2 separate regions of the Homo sapiens genome follow, and region 2 is linked to region 1. The links come from fine-mapping of genetic effects on gene expression. A gene starts in region 1. The other region holds a variant in brackets. All regions are shown on one strand. Distances are between the middles of the regions. Region 1 holds the start of ADCY7 (adenylate cyclase 7). Region 2 overlaps BRD7 (bromodomain containing 7).

What was found.
Region 2: its variant is fine-mapped to the expression of ADCY7 in whole blood (INTERVAL, PIP above 0.99).

The regions. Positions count from the first base shown.
Region 1 is chr16:50,258,233-50,270,569 of GRCh38, reverse strand. ADCY7 (adenylate cyclase 7) reads right to left here and starts at 4,019. Exons shown (of 26, transcript NM_001114.5): 1 at 3,890-4,019. RefSeq lists enhancers at 4,247-4,336, 4,282-4,875, 5,943-6,122, 8,356-8,425.
Region 2 is chr16:50,341,100-50,349,099 of GRCh38, reverse strand. All of the region lies in intron 5 of BRD7 (bromodomain containing 7), which reads left to right. Among named protein-coding and RNA genes, the nearest start is that of BRD7, 24 kb to the left of the region's middle. The variant A/G (reference allele first, on the strand shown) is at 4,429.

The DNA.
Region 1 (12,337 bases):
ACTTAGGTAGCGCCTCCGCTGTGCCAGGAGCAGAGTGTGCATCAGCTCATTTAATCTTTACAACCACCTGATGCAGGGGGTACCTTTACCAACCCCATTTCACAGGTGCAAGAAACAGGCTCCATCCCTTGCTCATCTCACACGCTGTTGGGAGGAGGCAGAACAGAGCTGGAACCCGTGCCGCCGGACCAGAGCACAGTCCAGTTCTGCCTGGAGGCGGGATGCTGGACCGGATAACCTCTGGAAGACCCCTGCTTCTCTGGCTGGTGTTCAGATGTGGTCTCATTCTCCAGTTCCAACTAACTTCCAGCTCTTGGCTACATGTGTCTATCTATCTGTTTATCTATCTATCTATCTATCTATCTATCTATCTATCTATCTATCTATCTATCTGAGACAGGGTCTTGCTCTATTACCCAGAGTGGAGTACAGTGGCATGATCTCAGCTCACTGCAGCCTCCACCTCCTGGGCTCAAGCAATCCTCCTGCGTAGCTGGGACTACAGGCATGCACCACCATGCTGGCTAATATTTGTAATTTTTTCCTAGAGTTGGGGTTGTGCCATGTTGCCTAGGCTGGTCTCAAACTCTTGAGCTCAAGTGATCCGCCCACTTCAGCCTCCCAAAGCGCTGGGACTGCAGGTGTGAACCACGGTGCCTGGCCACACGTGTCTTTTAAAAGTAGTAAATGCCTCCCTCCCACCCCATGAAAGGCTAGAATGGGCTGCTCTGATACAGGCATCCACTGTGACCCACTCTGCATGCTCCCTCAAAGGCCTGGAACTTTCTCCAGCGGAGTTAAGCGCTGCTCTCTCCCTGGGCAGTGGGAGAGGTAGGAGAGAGGATGCTGTGTCACCTCAGTATGAACAAGTCCACATCCTCTTCCTCCAGGACAGCAGGAGGGAGGCAAGGAGCGGTGCTGAGGGTCAGGCCACCCAGCCACCTCTGTGACCCTTGCAATGACAGGGAGTGGACAAACCACCTACCTCCTGGCTAAGGCATGACCCAACCACACATCCAGGAAAGCACGTGAGACAGCCCACCCTGGCCCAGCCACGCAGAAGGCCTCGTCCTACCTCTTCTCTCCCGCAGTGGGCCCAGCGAAGTCCAGGCACAGGGCAGGGTAGGGGAGGCCCTCACAGGAGCCCAATTCCTCATCTTCCCAGTAAGGACCACCCCCACGAATCCCTCAGCACCAACCAGAGCCCCTGTTCTCAGCTTTGCCCCATCTGATCTCGCCAAAGACACAGTGTGCTGGCCCTGACTCCAGGCTCAAATGTGGCAGCAGACCACACTGTGGTGGGCACAACTGGATGCCTGAGGACCGATCTGCTGGGTTATTCAGGATAGACAGCCCCTCTGGGCCCTGTCTCCTCTGTAAACTGGAGGTGAACGGCACCTACCATATGGAGCGGTGGAGGAGGTGGGGAATGGGTCAAATCAGTAGCTATAAATTGTAGAGTGGGGTGCATGTCCCCAGTGCAACCATCGAGTCGGACTTTTGTCTCTTTTGAAAAATTTATTTATTTTGAGACAGGGTCTCATTCCGTCACCCAGGCTGGATGGAGTGCAGTGGCACAGTCATGGCTCACTACAGCCTCCAACTCCTGGGCTCAAAGGATCCTCCTGCCTTAGCCTCCCAAGTAGCTGGGACTACAGGCACACGCCACCACACCCAGCTAATTTTTGTATTTTTTGTAGAGACGGGGTTTCGCCATGTTGCCCAGGCTGGTCTCGAACCCCTGGGCTCAAGTGATCCGCCCACCTTGGCCTCCCAAAGTGCTGGGATCTTTTCTCCTTTTGAGACTCTCCTGTGGCCTGTCCAGAGGCCACACTCCAGCCCAATTTCTACTTCCTGAGCTCTCCCTACACCAACCTCCATGCCCTCAAGCAAACCTCCCAGACCTACTCCTGGCAAAGATGTTCTGCAATACCACCTTCACCCTCATCACCCGGAAAACAGCTGCTAGTAAACAGCTGCTTCTTTCATGAAAACAGCACTAGAAGGCTGGGCGTCGGGCTCATGCTTGTAATCCCAGCACTTTAGAAGGCTGAGGCGGTAAGATTGCCTGAGCTCATGAGTTCAAGGTTGCAGTGAGCTATGACCACTCCACTGCACTCCAGCATGGGTGACAGAGTGAGATCCTGTCTTAAAAAAAGAAAAGAGGCTGGGGGTGGTGGCTCACACCTATAATCCCAGCACTTTGGGAGGTCGAGGTGGATGGATCATTTGAGGTCAGGAGTTTGAGACCAGCCTGGCCACCATGGTGAAACCCCGTCTTTACTTTACTAAAAATACAAAAATTAGCCAGGTGTAGTGGTGTGGTAACTGTAGTCCCAGCTACTCAGGAGGCTGAGGGAGGAGGACGGCTTAAGCCCAGGAGGCAAAGGTTACAGTGACCCAAGAGGGTCACTACTGCACTCCAGCCTGGGCAACAGACAGAGACTCCATCTCAAAAAATAATAATAAATAAAAATAAGAAAGAAAGAAAATACCACCGGAGACGCTACCTCCACAAAGCTCACACCTGCCCTTCTGAGGGCCACAGAATCTGGAACAATCTGAGAGCCTCCCCTCCCCCACACTCTGCACCAGGAGCTGCAGGTAAACCTTGGGAACCCAGGGCCTCTGGAGGTGGGAAGACAGACAACTGGGTGGGAAGCGAAGGCTGTGCAGCAAACGCCTTCCTGAGCTGCAGCCCCCTCAGCCTCCTGCACTTCCTGCAGGGCTGGCACTTGGCACTTCCTCTCAAATTGGCTGGCTTGTCACTTTTATGTCTCCTTTGGCCTCGTCTAAGACAATAATACAGTCATGATGTCACAATGGCAATGTCCTATTTACAGATTTTTTTTTCCCCAAGACAAATACTTAGATTTTAAACATGTCCTTCCACACACAGGCTAGAACCCCCTGTGATTCCCTGGGCAGCCCGGTCCTCACTCCGAGAAACACTGGTGTTGAGTCCACCCCTCACAGCCTCCATCTGCAAGATGGTGATGCTAGTGAAGGCCCACGGTCACATAGCCCTTCCAGACACATCCAGCCCACACTGGCTGCCCGTCCAGGCCTTGGACCCAGGGCCCCTGTCGTAGGTGGCTCGGCCTGGCCCCTACCTCCAGGCCCTTGGCTTCCCCCTCCCGGCCCTCCCTTCTCCTCTCCAGCAATGGCTGTCCAGGGAGGAAGCCCCCAGCCACAGATGTCCCTGCCCTTGACCCTGATGTGATGACACAGAGAAGAGGCAACTGCCTCACCCTCTGTACATACATGTTTAGATGAATGCATAGAAAGCTCCAGAAAGACCCGCTCCAGAAAGACCCACTCCAGATGGCCCATGCGGTCCCTGGGGGATAGAGGAGAGGCATTGCAGGGAAAGGGAAACCAGTCTGCTTTTTGGAGGCATCTTGGTTTCCTGACCCTCAGGCATGCACTCCTTTCAGAGGTTTTGTTTGTTTTTTGTTTTATAATTTCATAAAATTAGTTGAATTGGCCTTCCCTTGCCAATGTTTCCTTTCATTGAGAAAAGTCATGTGTGCTTGTAAATGTAAAATTACACCCTCGAGAAGGAGTGTGGACATTTGAGAGTCTGTGGTTCCTAGAATTCCAGATGGAACGGGCCACATGTACAACATTGTGGTCACAACCGCACTTTCTTGTCAGGCTGGGAAAAGCCAGTGACAAGTCGCCTCTGGTCCCCTGTTGAAGGGCCGCCTCTCCCAGCCATCTGCCCAGTAGGCTCACGGAGCCTCCTACTCCCCCAGCCCAGACCCTGCCCAGTGCACTCCCAGGCCAGGCTGCCGGGTGAGCTGCTTCCCACCCACTGTCCAGCCCCGTCCCCTGGGGCTCAAGCCACTAGGACTGGTGACACTCCATCCCCACACCCCACTTTTACCTGGCTCTCCTCCCCGGCCCCAGCAGCCGGCCAGGGTCTGCAGGGAGGTGGCCCGGCCCCCGCCTGCCCTTCCTCAGACGCGCCCAGGCTCACCCATCCGAAGGCTCCTTCCACGCTACCTAATGAGAGTGAGTCACATCTGGGACCCACCACTTCCTGCTCCGGCAGCGGCAGCAGCGGCGGCGGCGGCAGCAAGGCTAAGGCACAGCCCACAGCCCAGCCTCTCGGGGTGTGCAGGGCCCCCTCCCCCAGCCACAGTGCTGCTCTCCGCAGCCTGGGAGCTGCCAGGCCTGGGAGCTGTCGGGCTCCAATGACTTCATGGAAATTTGAAGCTTGAAGCTGGAACAATTTTGAAAAAATAATAATAAAACAAGCACCAAAAACCTCCATTAGAAGCCCCAAGACAACTGTTCAAAGTGGGGAGCAAATGCATCCTTAGTGAGCAATTAGCAATTAGCGGCCTGGCCTGAGCCTCCTGTGGGCTCTGACGCTCACAGACAGGCCCCCCGCGCCTTCCTGGGACTCAATTTCCCTATCTATGTAGTAAGGTGGCCCCGTCCACCTCTGAGAGGGGCCCAGGAGAGGTCAAAGATCTTCCAGCCCAGCCCACTGCCTCTCCATCTCACCTACGCTCCCATGCTGGGAGCAGGGCAGGGGCAGGCCCATCCTTGGGGCTCCTATTCCAAAATCAGAGTCCCTGGAGAGCCCCCAACATCCCTGGGCACCATGAGGCTGGGAATCAAACCCCAGCACCCCTTCTGCTATGCCAGGCCTCAGTTTCCCCACTGGGATCATGGGGCGCTCAGTGGCGAGGGAGCAGATCAGGAGAGGCTAAGAGGAGAGAGTGGAGACTCCCAAAACAGAGGGGGAGGCCTCCAGCCCGCTGGCCACAGCAGCACCTGGTCCTCAGGGAGCCCTTCTGAGCATGTGACTGGCATCCTGGGATTACGAGCTCCTCAAAGCAATGGTGTACCTCCTCCACCTCCCACATCCAGGGTCAGACACCCCTCTTCTGGTCTTCTAACCCCTGCACCTTCCTCCATCACAGCACCTCTGTGCTGTGACCACTGGTTGCTGGTCTGTCTTTCCTAGGTTATATCCTTGAGGAGGGCAGAGATGGGAGGGCAGCTGTAATATCAACAGCTGTGTCCCCAGCGTCCAGCCCCAGCTGGTCACAGAGTAGACATCCCACACATACTGATCAGGAGGAACTGAACATGTTAGGTGCTGTCTCTGTGCCAGGCCCCATGCAGGGAACTAGCAGGTGATCTAAGGTCTGCCATCTGGTGGAGACAGGCATAGGACTCACACAGGGTTCCAGGCTGCTCCAGAGGCCACAGGAGGGAGTGGGAGACCTCAGGGGATCCTCCCCATCAGGGTCGCCCTCCTATCAGCAAATGTCTCCCTAGCAAATGTCCCAGAGCAGAGAAGGAACAGACATCATCATCATCAAAAGAGGGGAAAGACAAGCCACTGACTAGGAGAAAGTCACATCCTATATGACTGACAAAAGACTCCTCCCTAGCATATATAAAGATCTCCCAGGCTTGGCATGGTGGCTCATGCCTGTAATCCCAGCACTTTGGGAGGCTAAGGTGGGCGGATCACCTGATGTCAGGAGTTTGAAACCAGCCTGGCTAACATGGCAAAATCCCGTTTCTACTAAAAGCACAAAAATTAGCCAGGCGTGGTGGCATGAGCCTGTAATCCCAGCTACTTGGGAGGCTGAGGCAGGAGAATCACTTGAACCTGGGAGGCAGAGGTTGCAGTGAGCCGAGATCACACCACTGCACTCCAGCCTGGGCAACAGAGTGAGACTCTGTCTCAGAAAAAAAAAAAAAAAAAAAGACCTCCCACAAACCAATAAGAAAAAGACAAATGGCCCAATTAAAAGATGAACAAGAGACTTACACAGGTACTTCAACAAAGAGGATGCCAAAATGACCAATAAGCACATGAAAAAGATACTCAACATCATTAGCCACCAGCAAATTAAAACCATATAGAGATTCCACTGTACCACTAGAATGGCTAAAATTAAAATGAAAATACCAAGTGTTGACAAGGAGGAGAAGCAGCTCTTCACTCTCATGTACTGCTAGTGGGAATGTAAAATGGAGCCACCATGATGAAAACTGCCTGGCAGTGTGGACAAAAGCAAACCATATGCTTCCCCAATGACTCAGCAATTCAATCTCAGGTATTTACCCAAAAGAAATGAGTACATGTGTCCACAAATGACTTCTATCCAAGTGTTCAGAGAAGCTTTCATCCTAACAGTCAAACTGCAAACCCAAACATCCTGCAATGAGTAAATGGATAAACAAATTTTCATATATTCACACAACAGAAAATTACTCAGCAGTAAAAAGGAACAGATCACTGCTAACACACAACATGAATGAATATCCAAGATGGCAAGGACAGTGAAAGACCCACCCACAAAAGACACATTCAGCACGTTTCCATTTATATGAAACTTCAGAAATGATGAAACTAATCTACAGTGACAGACAGCAAGACAGCGGTTGCCTCTAGGGAGGCCGCTGATTGGAAAGGGGCACACAGGAAACTTCTGGGGGCTGAGGAGGTTCTAAATCTCCCTGTGGGTGCTGGTTATACAGGCGAGTGCCTAAGTACACTCATTACCCTGTACATTGAAGGTTTGTGCACTTGCCTGTATGTAAATTACCCGTCCATTTTTAAATGGGTATTGAGGGATACCCGTTTGCGTATGCAGGAGGGCATGGTGCTGGATGCTCAGTAGATTCAGGAAAAAGAACAGATCTGACCTGGCCCAGTGGGCGAGAGGCTGATGAGACACATGCTCAAACCCTGAGGAAAGCGCGGCGTGGAGATGGAGCCGCTGGGGGAGATATCGGGGGCCAAGGGGAAGGGGCATAGGAGGCAGGGCAAGTCCAGGGGAATGGCAGGTGGGGAGCGACCCACCCTGACCAACATTTCTGCAAGATGATCTCGGCTTGAGAAAAGGGGCAGCTTGGAGAGGACACATGTAGATGCCTGGACACAGGAGGGGGGTTCCCCACTGCCTGCTGGGAGCTTATGGGGCCCTGGGCTTTCCAGCACCGGCCATAGAGCAGGGAGTGTGTGAAGATAAACTGGCCATACAGCAGAGGCTGTATGATAACAAACCCTGCAGTTTGATAATGAGAGGGGCACAGTAAACCCTGCCGTTTGATAATCAAGGTTCCTGTCCCACTGAGCAATACCTCCTGCCCTCCCAGGCTGCCCGCCCAGCTTTCTCCTTGGAAGATGTGGCGGTGAGTCTCTTCCCTGCTGCAGCCTCAGCACTGCCTCAAACCAGCTGCTCCCCGCAGCCGCAGCCACCAGCCACCACTTGACACCCCACCCCTCACGCTGTCTAGGAGGTCCCGGCAGGCAGGATCTGAGCACACACAGGTCAATGCTCCCTGGGATCCACACAGGCATCACCCAGGACTTTACACACACAGCCTCATGGCACTCCCTGGCAGCCCCACTGAGGAAGGCCCTGCTATCATCCCTCTGTAGAATAAGGCACCAAGGCTCAGAGACACCACATTGCTGGCCCAAGCACACACAGCTATGAAAAGGCAGAGCCAGGATTCAAGCTCAGATCTACCTGACTTCACAACCCATGCTCCTGACCCTCCCTGGGAACAAGGACAAGCTTCCATAGGGACAGGCTACCCCTAACCCCATTACAAGGTAATGAGCATGGTGAGTACCCTCACCCAAGATCTCCCAGCCCTGGCACACAGTGCTCCCAAGTGTGCTGAACAAACACCCGCTTTCTTTCAACTCCCCCAAAGAAGGGCAACCTTGGGCTTTCACAGTAGCAGACAGGGAAGGCTGGTTTCTGCTTGGTAGAGGCGCCAGGGCACACAGCACAACCCCAATCCTTTCCTGTCCCTCTCAGCAACCCCCATCCTCTTCCCTGGTGCTAGGGACACAAAACTGACTTGGACATAGTTCCCTTTCATGCAAGTTCCTAGGCTGGGAGGAGGTAAGAGGTGCCCATCAAAGGCATGGCATAAAGCTCTGGGGAGAAGCCGGCAGGGCATGGTGGCTCACACCTGTAATCCCAGTACTTTGGGAGGCTGAGGAGGGTGGATCACTTGAGGCCAGGAGTTCGAGACCAGCCTGGCCAACATGGTGAAACCCCGTCTCTAATAAAAATACAAAAATTAGCCGGGCTTGAGGGCAGGCGCCTGAATCCCAGCTACGCAGGAGGCTGAGGTGGGAGGAATACAAAAATTAGCCAGGCATTGTGGCGGGCACCTGAATCCCAGCTACTCGGGAGGCTGAGGTGGGAGGATCGCTTGAGCCTAGGAAGCAAAGGTTGCAGTAAGCTGAGATCACACCACTGCACTCCAGCCTGGGTGACAAAGTGAGACCCTGTCTCAAAAAAAAAAAAAAAGAGATCTGAGGAGAAGTACCCAGCAGGGTCCAGGCATATGTGGCCCAGAGTTTAGGGGAGAAGGACTTCCTACCCTGGGCAACAATGGGGGCTCAAGATGAGGCCATGAAACAGTCAGTAGGAGAGACTCAAACTGCAGCCAAAACGAAGCAGACAGTCAAGCTGTCAGTCAGCCAAGGGACAAATAACACTGAGTGCTGAGCAAACAGCTTGGCCCTGCCACACAAACCTAGATGTCGAGCCCTTACTGGGGGAAGGAAAGCCCCAGCACCCAGTGGGCTTGGAACTCTGGGCACGTCTCTGTAGGGGCCAGGGGATATGAGAACAAAAACCACCGTCCATGCCACAGTCACCTCTTCCTTCCCCTAAGGTCGGGGGTTCACGGCACCGGGAGGAGCCCTGGGAGGGTCTGAGCAATTGGGCTGGCCACTTGTCGCCAACCTCGCCTATCGTCCTGGCAGGATGAAGAGGAGCCTTCAGGAAGGTCCTGCTATTATTCCTGTCTGAGAGCTCTGGAGTCAGGGGCTCCAGGGAGAGACTTTGGCGGAGCTAGGGGACCCTGGTGGCTCAGGGAGTCCCTCTGTAAAGTCAGGAGATGTGGCCCACTCTGCTGGGAGCCCGTGGGGGGCTGTGAGAAATGCCGACAAGGCACATGGTGGGTGCTGGGTGCAAGCCAGCAGGGAGGAGGCCAGCCAGGCGTTCTCCCCGCTCTAAACCCTAAATCCCTAGGCTCTGCGACGTGCCTGCCCCTCCTTCAAACAACTTCCATGGCTTGCCTGTGCCTCCAGAGGCAAGTCCTGCCTCCTCCTCCTGCCTCTCGGGGACCCCCACCTGGCCCAACTCACTTTTCCATCCTTATCTGCCTCCACCTGCTACCCAGCTGCCTGACTCTTCCATTTCTTTGCTCAGGCCTTAGTGTCCCTGGAATGCTCAAAATGCTACCCATCCCGCCAGGTACTGGTGCCGCCTCTACCAGGAAGCCTTCCCCAGTGCCCCACCATCACCTCCTCTAGGCCACAATGCCATAGACCTCTCCACAGAGGATGTCATGTCCACTTTTGGTAACAGCTCCCTGTTCCTATGGGGAACCAGCCCTGCAGGGGTGGACTCACAACTAGCGTATATGGAGGAATGGGTGTGAGACTCAGGTGGTCCTGTGAAATTCACTTCCAGGACTTTTGTTGGGACTGTGGGAAAGTGTTCTCATTCACTTGGCAGTAGGTGTGAGCTACGAGCCACTGGGGCCATCTTTGCCACAGTGGCAGTCAGCCTCCAGTGACCCTTGTCCCCTGGCACTCATGTCTGTGAATGGTCCCCTCCCACACCACCTGTGTGACCAATAAAATATCGTGGAAACCACAATATGCGGCTTCTGAGATCATGAAAGATCTCAGAAGCTTCCACTCAGCTTTCCTTTGGATCTCTCCCTCTAGGGGAAGCCAGACACCATGGCTCGAGGACACTCAAGCAGCCCCAAGGAGGGATCTGTGTTCGAGGAACGGAGGCCTCCCGCCAGCAGCCAGCACCAACCCACCCTGCATGTGACAAAGCTGCCTTGGAGGCAGACCCTCCAGCCCCAGTCAAGCCTTCAGATGACTGCAGCTTGACAGGCAGCTTGATTGCAACCTCATCAGAGAACCCCAGCCAGAAGCACCCAGCTCAGCCTGAACTCCTGACCTACAGAAATTATGAGGTAATTGGAATAATTTGTTACACAGCAATAGATTACAAATACAACCTCTCTGTGGAAGAACTGGCCTGAAAAGGAAGCCAAGACAGAGAAATGGAGAGAGAAGCAGAGTCTTCATGATACCATTTGAGCCCCTGGATCCAGCCATGCCTGAATCCCCACAAAGTCTCAAGTCCTCTCTTTCTCCCTTTCCCTTTGGTTACAGTGGGTTTCTGGTACTTGCAGCTCAAAGAACCTGAACTTATTCATGCAGCACCCTCCCTGCTCAGGAGTGACTGAAGGTCCTGTCTTCTCCTCCATCAGACCCATCTGGCTGAGGGCAAGGACCACCTCTCCCCAGCACCACAGGACCTCACGACATTTCTGCCAGATTGACCTGTACCCAGATACTCCCAACAATAACACAGTGCAGCCAGCCGTGTGAGCGTCCCCTCCTGCTCACCCTACGTGGGAGGACAGAGCAGGGCTGACTCCGTGTGGTTTCACGCCCCCCAGCTCTTCCACACTTGGGACTGAGGTGAGCTCCCCAGGGAGAGGGACTCGCAGAGGCAGCACAGCTCGATGGAGACACTCCCCCTCCTCCCAGATGCATCTTTCACGCTGGGAGGCGGGGAACATTCCAGTGCATCCACCCACCTCCTCCAGGCCTCTGCCCACATCTCTTCTCAGCTGTGGGCTCAGGGATGTGCAGGGATCTGTTCCTGTGCAGGCTAGGAACATAAGAAAATGCCCGGGTCCACTAGCGCCTTCTGACCCCTAATCAGTGGTGGTCCTAAGGGGTGGCCTGGGGTAAGCCCCAAAGCCACTCCAAATGAACACATATTCTAAGTAAACAGCATCTTTCCCATTAAACCCGGCACCCTGCGGCTACTGCCCCTCCTAAATCGCTGCTGCTTGGCTGAGTTCCAATGCCACAACAAGGAAAGATGAACAGCCCGACTTCATGTAAGCGACAAAGCCCACTCAAGGGCAGGGGCCTGACTCCCATGATCCCCAGGGCCCCGATCTCTGCCACGCCTGGGAGACGGGGCTTTGGAGAAGGAAAGGGGCAGCTGGGGTCATGGTGTGTTGAGTAACAGCAGAGAATCCTAAAAGAACAGATGTGAAAGCAACCGCCCTGCCAACCAAAAGCCCTTATTTCCTTTGAAAAACTTGGCAGCTGGGCCGCACCAGAGGCCGCCTGTCCTTCCCTGCACCCGGCCCAGTGTGACCCATGGACAGGCAGGGAGGAAGGCCATGTCCCTCCCACCAGATCCTCAAAGGGGGCTTCAGACATACCACAAATTGAAAATAGCAGCTCCTAGAACTGCATGTGAAGTGTGACCCCTTTCTTTTTTAACGATGTCACAGGGATGCCTGTATTTTTTTGCATACAAGAAAATCGGGAAGAAAATGTCCCAAATCTTAGGAGTTATCACTAGGTGATAGAATTTGGCACAGTTTTATTTTAATATTTATCTTTTTGTTTAGATCTGCTTTTCAATTTTTCTCTAATGAAAATATACTACCCAAATAATTAACAGAGGAGGAAAACCAGCTACAATCAAGAAAAAGCAAGAAAAAGGAAAAACAATGCCCTGAGATGGGTAGTTTTCCACCCAACACCAAACTAGGCACCACTTGTAACAGGGTGAATACGGAAGGTTTTTACTGTAACTAAAAATACTACCTTAAGGGTTGGGCGTGGTGGCTCATGCTTGTAATTCCAGCACTTTGGGAGACCAAGACAGGGAGATCAGGAGGATCGCTTGAGCCCAGGAGTTCAAGACCAGCCGGCGCAACAGAGTGAAACCTCATCTCTACAAAAAAAATTAGCCTGAGCTGGTGGTGGGCACCTGTGGTCCCAGCTACTTGGGAGGCTGAGATAGGAGGATTGCTTGAGCCTGGAGGTCAAGGCTGCAGTGAGCTATAATTGAGCCACTGCACTCTAGCCTGGGAGACAGAGAGGGACCATGTTTCAAAAAAAAAAAAAAAATACTACCTTAAAGTCATTGAATATCAATGACTGCCAGTATTACAAAAGGAAATTCACCAGACCACGTGCCTCCCAGAAATTTCCAATAGCATCTCCAATGTGCTGTTGTGTGAAAAAAATCAAAACTGAATTAGATCAAGCCTCTGGATACAACTATGAATTTATAGGATTCAGGGGACAAGGAGCATGCTACACATTATAGGAAGCTCTCCTACAGGTAAAGGGACCCAGCTTCAACAAAAACACCACATGGAAGACAGAGAGAATGAGTACCAGTCCTACAGATGAAAAACTGAAGAAACATATCACAGTCTCATCATGCAGACCTCATTCGGATCCTGATTATTATTATTTTTTAAAGAG
Region 2 (8,000 bases), 81 kb before region 1:
AGGACATGAACTCATCCTTTTTATGGCTGCATAGTATTCCATGGTGTATATGTGCCACATTTTCTTAATCCAGTCTATCATCGTTGGACATTTGGGTTGGTTCCAAGTCTTTGCTATTGTGAATAGTGCCACAATAAACATACGTGCGCATGTGTCTTTATAGCAGCATGATTTATAATCCTTTGGGTATATACCCAGTAATGGGATTGCTGGGTCAAATGCTATTTCTAGTTCTAGATCCTTGAGGAATCGCCACACTGTCTTCCACATGGTTGAACTAGTTTACAGTCCCACCAACAGTGTAAAAGTGTTCCTGTTTCTCCACATCCTTTCCAGCACCTGTTGTTTCCTGACTTTTTAATGATCACCGTTCTAACTGGTGTGAGATGGTATCTCATTGTGGTTTTGATTTGCATTTCTCCGACTGCCAGTGATGATGAGCATTTTTCACGTGTCTTCTGCATGAATGTCTTCTTTTGAGAAGTGTCTGTTCATATCCTTTGCCCACTTTTTGATGGGGTTGTTTGATTTTTTCTTGTAGATTTGTTTAAGTTCTTTGTAGATTCTGGATATTAGCCCTTTGTCAGATGGATAGACTGTGAAAATTTTCTCCCATTCTGTAGGTTGCCTGTTCACTCTGATGGTAGTTTCTTTTGCTGTGCAGAAGCTCTTTAGTTTAATGAGATCCCATTTGTCAATTTTGGCTTTTGTTGCCATTGCTTTTGGTGTTTTAGTCATGAAGTCCTTGCCCATGCCTATGTCCTGAATGGTATAGCCTAGGTTTTCTTCTAGGGTTTTTATGGTTTTAGGTCTAACATTTAAGTCTCTAATCCATCTTGAATTAATTTTTGTATAAGGTGTAAGGAAGGGATCCAGTTTCAGCTTTCTACATATGGCTAGCCAGTTTTCCCAGCACCATTTATTAAATAGGGAATTCTTTCTCCCTTTCTTGTTTTTGTCAGGTTTGTCAAAGATCAGATGGTTGTAGATGTGTGTTATTATTTCTGAGTGCTCTGTTCTGTTCCATTGTTCTCTGTCTCTGTTTTGGTACCAGTACCATGCTGTTTTGGTTACTGTAGTCTTGTAGTATAGTTTGAAGTCAGGTAGTGTGATGCCTCCAGCTTTGTTCTTTTGGCTTAGGATTGACTTGGCAATGCAGGCTCTTTTTTGGTTCCATATGAACTTTAAAGTAGTTTTTTCCAATTCTGTGAAGAAAGTCATTGGTAGCTTGATGGGGATGGCATTGAATCTATAAATTACCTTGGGCACTATGGCCATTTTCACGATATTGATTCTTCCTACCCATGAGCATGGAATGTTCTTCCATTTGTTTGTATCCTCTTTTATTTCATTGAGCAGTGGTTTATAGTTCTCCTTGAAGAGGTCCTTCACATCCCTTGTGAGTTGGATTCCTAGCTATTTTATTCTCTTTGAAGCAATTGTGAATGGGATTTCACTCATGATTTGGCTCTCTGTTTGTCTGTTATTGGTGTATAGGAATGCTTGTGATTTTTGTACATTGATTTTGTATCCTGAGACTTTGCTGAAGTTGCTTATCAGCTTAAGGAGATTTTGGGCTGAGACGATGGGGTTTTCTAAATATACAATCATGTCATCTGCAAACAGGGACAATTTGACTTCCTCTTTTCCTAATTGAATACCCTTTATTTCTTTCTCCTGCCTGATTGCCCTGGCCAGAACTTCCAACACTATGTTAAATAGGAGTGGTGAGAGAGGTCATCCCTGTCTTGTGCCAGTTTTCAAAGGGAATGCTTCCAGTTTTTGCCTTTCGGTATGATATTGGCTGTGGTTTTGTCATAAATAGCTCTTATTATTTTGAGATATGTCCTATCAATACCTAGTTTATTGAGAGGTTTTAGCATGAAGGGCTGTTGAATTTTGTCAAAGGCCTTTTCTGCATCTATTGAGATAATCATGTGGTTTTTGTCTTTGGTTCTGTTTATATGCTGGATTACGTTTATTGATTTGCATATATTGAACCAGCCTTGCCTCCCAGGGATGAAGCCAACTTGATCGTGGTGGATAAGCTTTTTGATGTGCTGCTGGATTTGGTTTGCCAGTATTTTATTGAGGATTTTTGCATCGATGTTCATCAGGGATATTGGTCTAAAATTCTCTTTTTTTGTTGTGTCTCTACCAGGCTTTGGTATCAGGATGATGCTGGCCTCATAAAATGAGTTAGGGAGGATTCCCTCTTTTTCTATTGATTGGAATAGTTTCAGAAGGAATAGTACCAGCTCCTCTTTGTACCTCTGGTAGAATTTGGCTGTGAATCCATCTAGTCTTGGACTTTTTTTGGTTGGTAGGCTATTGCCTCAATTTCAGAGCCTCTTATTGGTCTATTCAGGGATTCAGCTTCTTCCTGGTTTAGTCTTGGGAGGGTGTATGTATCCAGGAATTTATCCATTTCTTCTAGATTTTCTAGTTTATTTGCATGGAGGTGTTTATAGTATTCTCTGATGGTAGTTTCTATTTCTGTGGGATCAGTGGCGATATCCCCTTTATCATTTTTTATTGCATCTATTTGATTCTTCTCTGTTTTCTTCTTAGTCTTGCTAGTGGTCTATCAATTTTGTTGATCTTTTCAAAAAACCAGTTCCTGGATTCATTGATTTTTTTGAAGGGTTTTTTGTATCTCTATCTCCTTCAGTTCTGCTCTGATCTTAGTTATTTCTTGCCTTCTGCTAGGTTTTGAATGTGTTTGCTCTTGCTTCTCTAATTTTTTTAATTGTGATGTTAGGGTATCAATTTTAGATCTTTCCTGCCTTCTCTTGTGGGCATTTAGTGCTATAAATTTCCCTCTACACACTGCTTTAAATGTGTCCCAGAGATTCTGGTATGTTGTGTGTTTGTTCTCATTGGTTTCAAAGAACATCTTTATTTCTGCCTTCATTTCGTTATGTACCTGGTAGTCATTCAGGAGCAGGTTGTTCAGTTTCCATGTAGTTGAGCGGTTTTGAGTGAGTTTCTTAATCCTGAGTTCTAGTTTGATTGCACTGTGGTCTGAGAGACAGTTTGTTATAATTTCTGTTCTTTTACATTTACTGAGGAGTGCTTTACTTCCAACTGTGTGGTCAATTTTGGAATAAGTGCAGTGTGGTGCTGAGAAGAATGTATATTCTGTTGATTTAGGGTGGAGAGTTCTGTAGATGTCTATTAGGTCTGCTTGGTGCAGAGCTGAGTTCAATTCCTGGATATCCTTGTTAACTTTCTGTCTCGTCGATCTGTCTAATGTTGACAGTGGGGTGTTAAAGTTTTGCATTATTATTGCGTGTGAGTCTAAGTCTCTTTTTAGGTAACTCAGGACTTGCTTTATGAATCTGGGTGCTCCTGTATTGGGTGCATATATATTTAGGATAGTTAGCTCTTCTTGTTGAATTGATCCCTTTACCATTATGTAATGGCCTTCTTTGTCTCTTTTGATCTTTGTTGGTTTAAAGTCTGTTTTATCAGAGACTAGGATTGCAACCCCTGCCTTTTTCTGTTTTCCATTTGCTTGGTAGATCTTCCTCCATCCCTTTATTTTGAGCCTATGTGTGTCTCTGCACATGAGATGGGTTTCCTGAATACAGCACACTGATGGGTCTTGACTCTTTATCCAATTTGCTAGTCTGTGTCTTTTAATTGGAGCATTTAGCCCATTTACATTTAAGGTTAATATTGTTATGTGTGAATTTGATCCTGTCATTATGATGTTAGCTGGTTATTTTGCTCGTTAGTTGATGCAGTTTCTTTCTAGCCTTGATGGTCTTTACAATTTGGCCTGTTTTTGCAGTGGCTGGTACTGGTTATTCCTTTCCACGTTTAGTGCTTCCTTCAGAAGCTCTTGTAAGACAGGCCTGGTGATGACAAAATCTGTCAGCATTTGTTTGTCTGTAAAAGATTTTATTTCTCCTTCACTTATGAAGCTTAGTTTGGCTGGATATGAAATTCTGGGTTGAAAATTCTTTTCTTTAAGAATGTTGAATATTGGCTCCCACTCTCTTCTGGCTTATAGGGTTTCTGCTGAGAGATCTGCTGTTAGTCTGATGGGCTTCCCTTTGGTGGGTAACCTGACCTTTCTCTCTGGCTGCCCTTAACATTTTTTCCTTCATTTCAACTTTGGTGAATCTGACAATTATGTGTCTTGGAGTTGCTCTTCTCGAGGAGTATCTTTGTGGCATTCTCTGTATTTCCTGAATTTGAATATTGGCCTGCCTTGCTAGGTTGGGGAAGTTCTCCTGGATAATATCCTGAAGAGTGTTTTCCAACTTGGTTCCATTCTCCCCATCACTTTCAGGTACACCAATCAGATGTAGATTTGGCCTTTTCACATAGTCCAATATTTCTTGGAGGCTTTGTTCATTTCTTTTCACTCCTTTTCCTCTAAACTTCTCTTTTTGCTTCATTTCATTCATTTGATCTTCA[A/G]TCATTGATACCCTTTCTTCCACTTGATCAAATCGGCTACTGAAACTTGTGCATGCATCACGTAGTCCTCGTGCCATGATTTTCAGCTCCATCAGGTCAGTTAAGGTCTTCTCTACCCTATTTAATGTAGTTAGCCATTCGTCTAATCTTTTTTCAAGGTTTTTAGCTTCTTTGCAATGGGTTCAAACATCTTCCTTGAGCTCAGAGAAGTTTGTTATTACTGATCGTCTGAAGCATTCTTCTCTCAACTCATCAAAGTCTTTCTCCCTCCAGCTTTGTTCCGTTGCTGGCAAGGAGCTGCGTTCCTTTGGAGGAGAAGAGGTGCTCTGATTTGTAGAATTTTCAGCTTTTCCGCTCTGGTTTCTCCCCGTCTTTGTGGTTTTATGTACCTTTGGTCTTTGATGATGGTGACATACAGATGGAGTTTTGGTGCGGATGTCCTTTCTATTTGTTAGTTTTTCTTCTAACAGTCAGGACCCTCAGCTGCAGGTCTGTTGGAGTTTGCTGGGGGTCTACTCCAGACCCTGTTTGGGTATCACCAGCAGAGGCTGCAGAACAGCAAATATTGCAGAATGGTACATGTTGCTGCCCGATCCTTCCTCTGGAAGCTTCATCTCAGAGGGGCACCCAGCTGTATGAGGTGTCAGTTGGCCCCTACAGGGAGGTGCCTCCCAGTTAGGCTACTCGGGGGTCAGGGACTCACTTCAGGAGGTAGTCTGTCCGTTCTCAGATCTCAAACTCCATGCTGGCAGAACCACTACTCTCTTCAAAGCTGTCAGACAGGGACGTTTAAGTCTGCAGAAGTTTCTGCTGCCTTTTGTTCAGCTATGCCCTGCCCCCAGAGGTAGGCTCCACCCAGTTCGAGCTTCCCGGTGGCTTTGTTTACCTACTCAAGCCTCAGCAGTGGTGGGCGCCCCTCCCCCAGCCTCACTGCTGCCTTGCAGTTCAATCTCAGACTGCTGTGCTAACAGTGAGTGAGGCTCCGTGGGCATGGGACCCTCTGAGCCATGCGCGGGATATAATCTGGTGTGCCATTTGCAAAGACCATTGGAAAAGCACAGTATTAGGGTGGGAGTGTCCTGATTTTCCAGGTACAGTCTGTCACAGCTTCCCTTGGCTAGGAAAGGGAATTCCCCAACCCCTTGTGCTTCCTGAGTGAGGTGATTCCCTGCCCTGCTTCGGCTCACACTCTGTGGGCTGCACCCACTGTCCGACAAGCCCCAGTGAGATGAACCCAGTACCTCAGTTGGAAATGCAGAAATCACCAGTCTTCTGCATCACTCATGCTGGGAGCTGTAGACTGGATCTGTTCCTATTCGGCCACCTTGGAACCTATCACTACACACTTTCAAACAACCAGATCTTGTGAGGACTCATTATCACAAGAACAGCAAGGGGGATATCTGCCTCCATGATCAAATCACCTCCCACCAGGTCCTTCCCCCAACATTGGGGATTACAATTCAACATGAGATTGGGGTGGGGACAGAGAGCCAAACCATATCACATGTACTCTAAAGTAAAGAATAAATTGGCTTGTCCAGAAATACTAAAGAGAAGTTTAATTACATTTTCTAATTTGATGAAAGTTAATTGCTCTCTGAGTTCATTTTGGCTATATTTGTTGAGCATATTTTCTTCAGCTTTAAGAAGAGTATAGAAAATTTACAAGGACCTGAAAACTTATAATATATATACCTATTATAGATGAGGTTTTTCCCATTTGAGGGAGTGTCCTGGTGTGTGTTGATTCCAGGGAAAGGAACCATGTATATTAAAATTTACTATGTATTCAACCGCCACAAACTTAATTGGTTTAGATAATATCTGTTTTACCTCTACTTTGTTTTACATAACCACAGTAGTGCTCACCTGACCTATAAGGGTTAGACCCTAATTGGTTACCCTAATTAGTTATTTTCCTAAAAATAAAATAAGATAGTGTCTTTATGGCCAGGTGTGGTGGCTTACACCTGTAATCCCAGCACTTCCGGAGGCCGAGGCAGGTGGATCACAAGGTCAGGAGATCAAGACCATCCTGGGTAACACAGTGAAACCCCGTCTCTACTGAAAATACAAAAAAATTGGCTGAGTGTGGTGGCGGATGCCTGTAGTCCCAGCTACTCGGGAGGCTGAGGCCGGAGAATGGCGTGAACCCAGGAGGCAGAGCTTGCGACAGAGTGAGACTCCATCTCAAAAAAAAAAAAAAAAAAAAAGACAGTGTCTTTACTTAGTCCCTTTTTTCATCCACATATTGATAAGCAGAGATTTATGAAGAATATCAGTGTTTAGTGCTCTTTACTGTTGAGTTTATAGGTAATATTCCACTTTCTCCAAAGAATCTGAATTACATTCTCTCTTATTTCGAGAAATAGAAACTTTTCCCAACTTTTTATCTGGTGAAAATTAGGCTAAAACCGTTTATTTCAGCATATTTCTGACCTTACCATTGCTTAATGGGAAAGAATTTCACAGTTTTTTGTTTTTTGTTTTTTTTCTGCATGATTTTCCTCTGATCTTTCTCTTACAGTAAGAAGAGTAGAAGTGTGTCCCCAGAGTGTTTTTAAGCAGGTTAGGGTTTATCATAATTGAAAGGAATTGGTATCTTAGCTCTTTAGAATTTCTACGTTGCCACTTTTTTCTAGGGAAAGCTCAACGGCCTAAAGTAATATTTATTCAGTTCATTTGGCAGTTGAAGTAAAATGTGTGTGTGTGTGTGTGTGTGTGTGTGTGTGTGTGTGTGAAAAGTGTGCAGGAAGACTCAGCTTTTTGAATGACCAGTGCCATCACCCACAGTTCAGTAAAGCCCAGCACATTATGTTAAGATTTAAGGAATCTACAAATTGGCTTAATAGATCAGTCCTGTGTTCATTAGAACAATTCAGTACTCTTGCCAGTTCATAGGCCCATTATCTGGCCAATTATAGGCCAAATGGTCACTTAGTTTGAGTATATATAGTAATCTAGTATCTCCGTTCACTTGCGTCCCATCCCCCCAAATACATATTTAATTTTTTTTTTTTTTTTTTGAGACCGAGTCTCACTCTGTTGCTCAGGCTGGAGTGCAGTGGCATGATCTTGGCTCACTGCAACCTCCACGTTCAGGGTTCAAGCAATTGTTGTGCCTCAGCCTCCCAAGTAGCTGGGACTACAGGGGTGTGTCACCACACCCAGCTAATTTTTTTGTATTTTTAGTAGAGACGGGGTTTCACCATGTTGCCCTGACCAGTCTCAAACTCCTGGGCTCAAGCAGTCCACCTGCCTCGGCCTCCCAAAGTGCTAGAATTATAAGGGTGAGCCACTATGCCCAGCCTAGTAATTCTTAATGGCCTGGAAGCTTTTCCAAATATCTGTAACAAAGGTCTTTAATCTAGGGTCCTTTGGATACCATAATGAGCCTTTAGAGGGACCAAGAACCTACTAAAATTACATGAAGACTTTTGTGTTCAGCTGTGTGTGTGTGTGTGTGTGTGTGTGTGTGTGTGTGTGTGTGTACTTAAGGTCTGGTCCCATAGCTTTCATCAGATGCTTAGAGATCCAAGACCTGGCATATTTACAGTCATGGCCCAAAC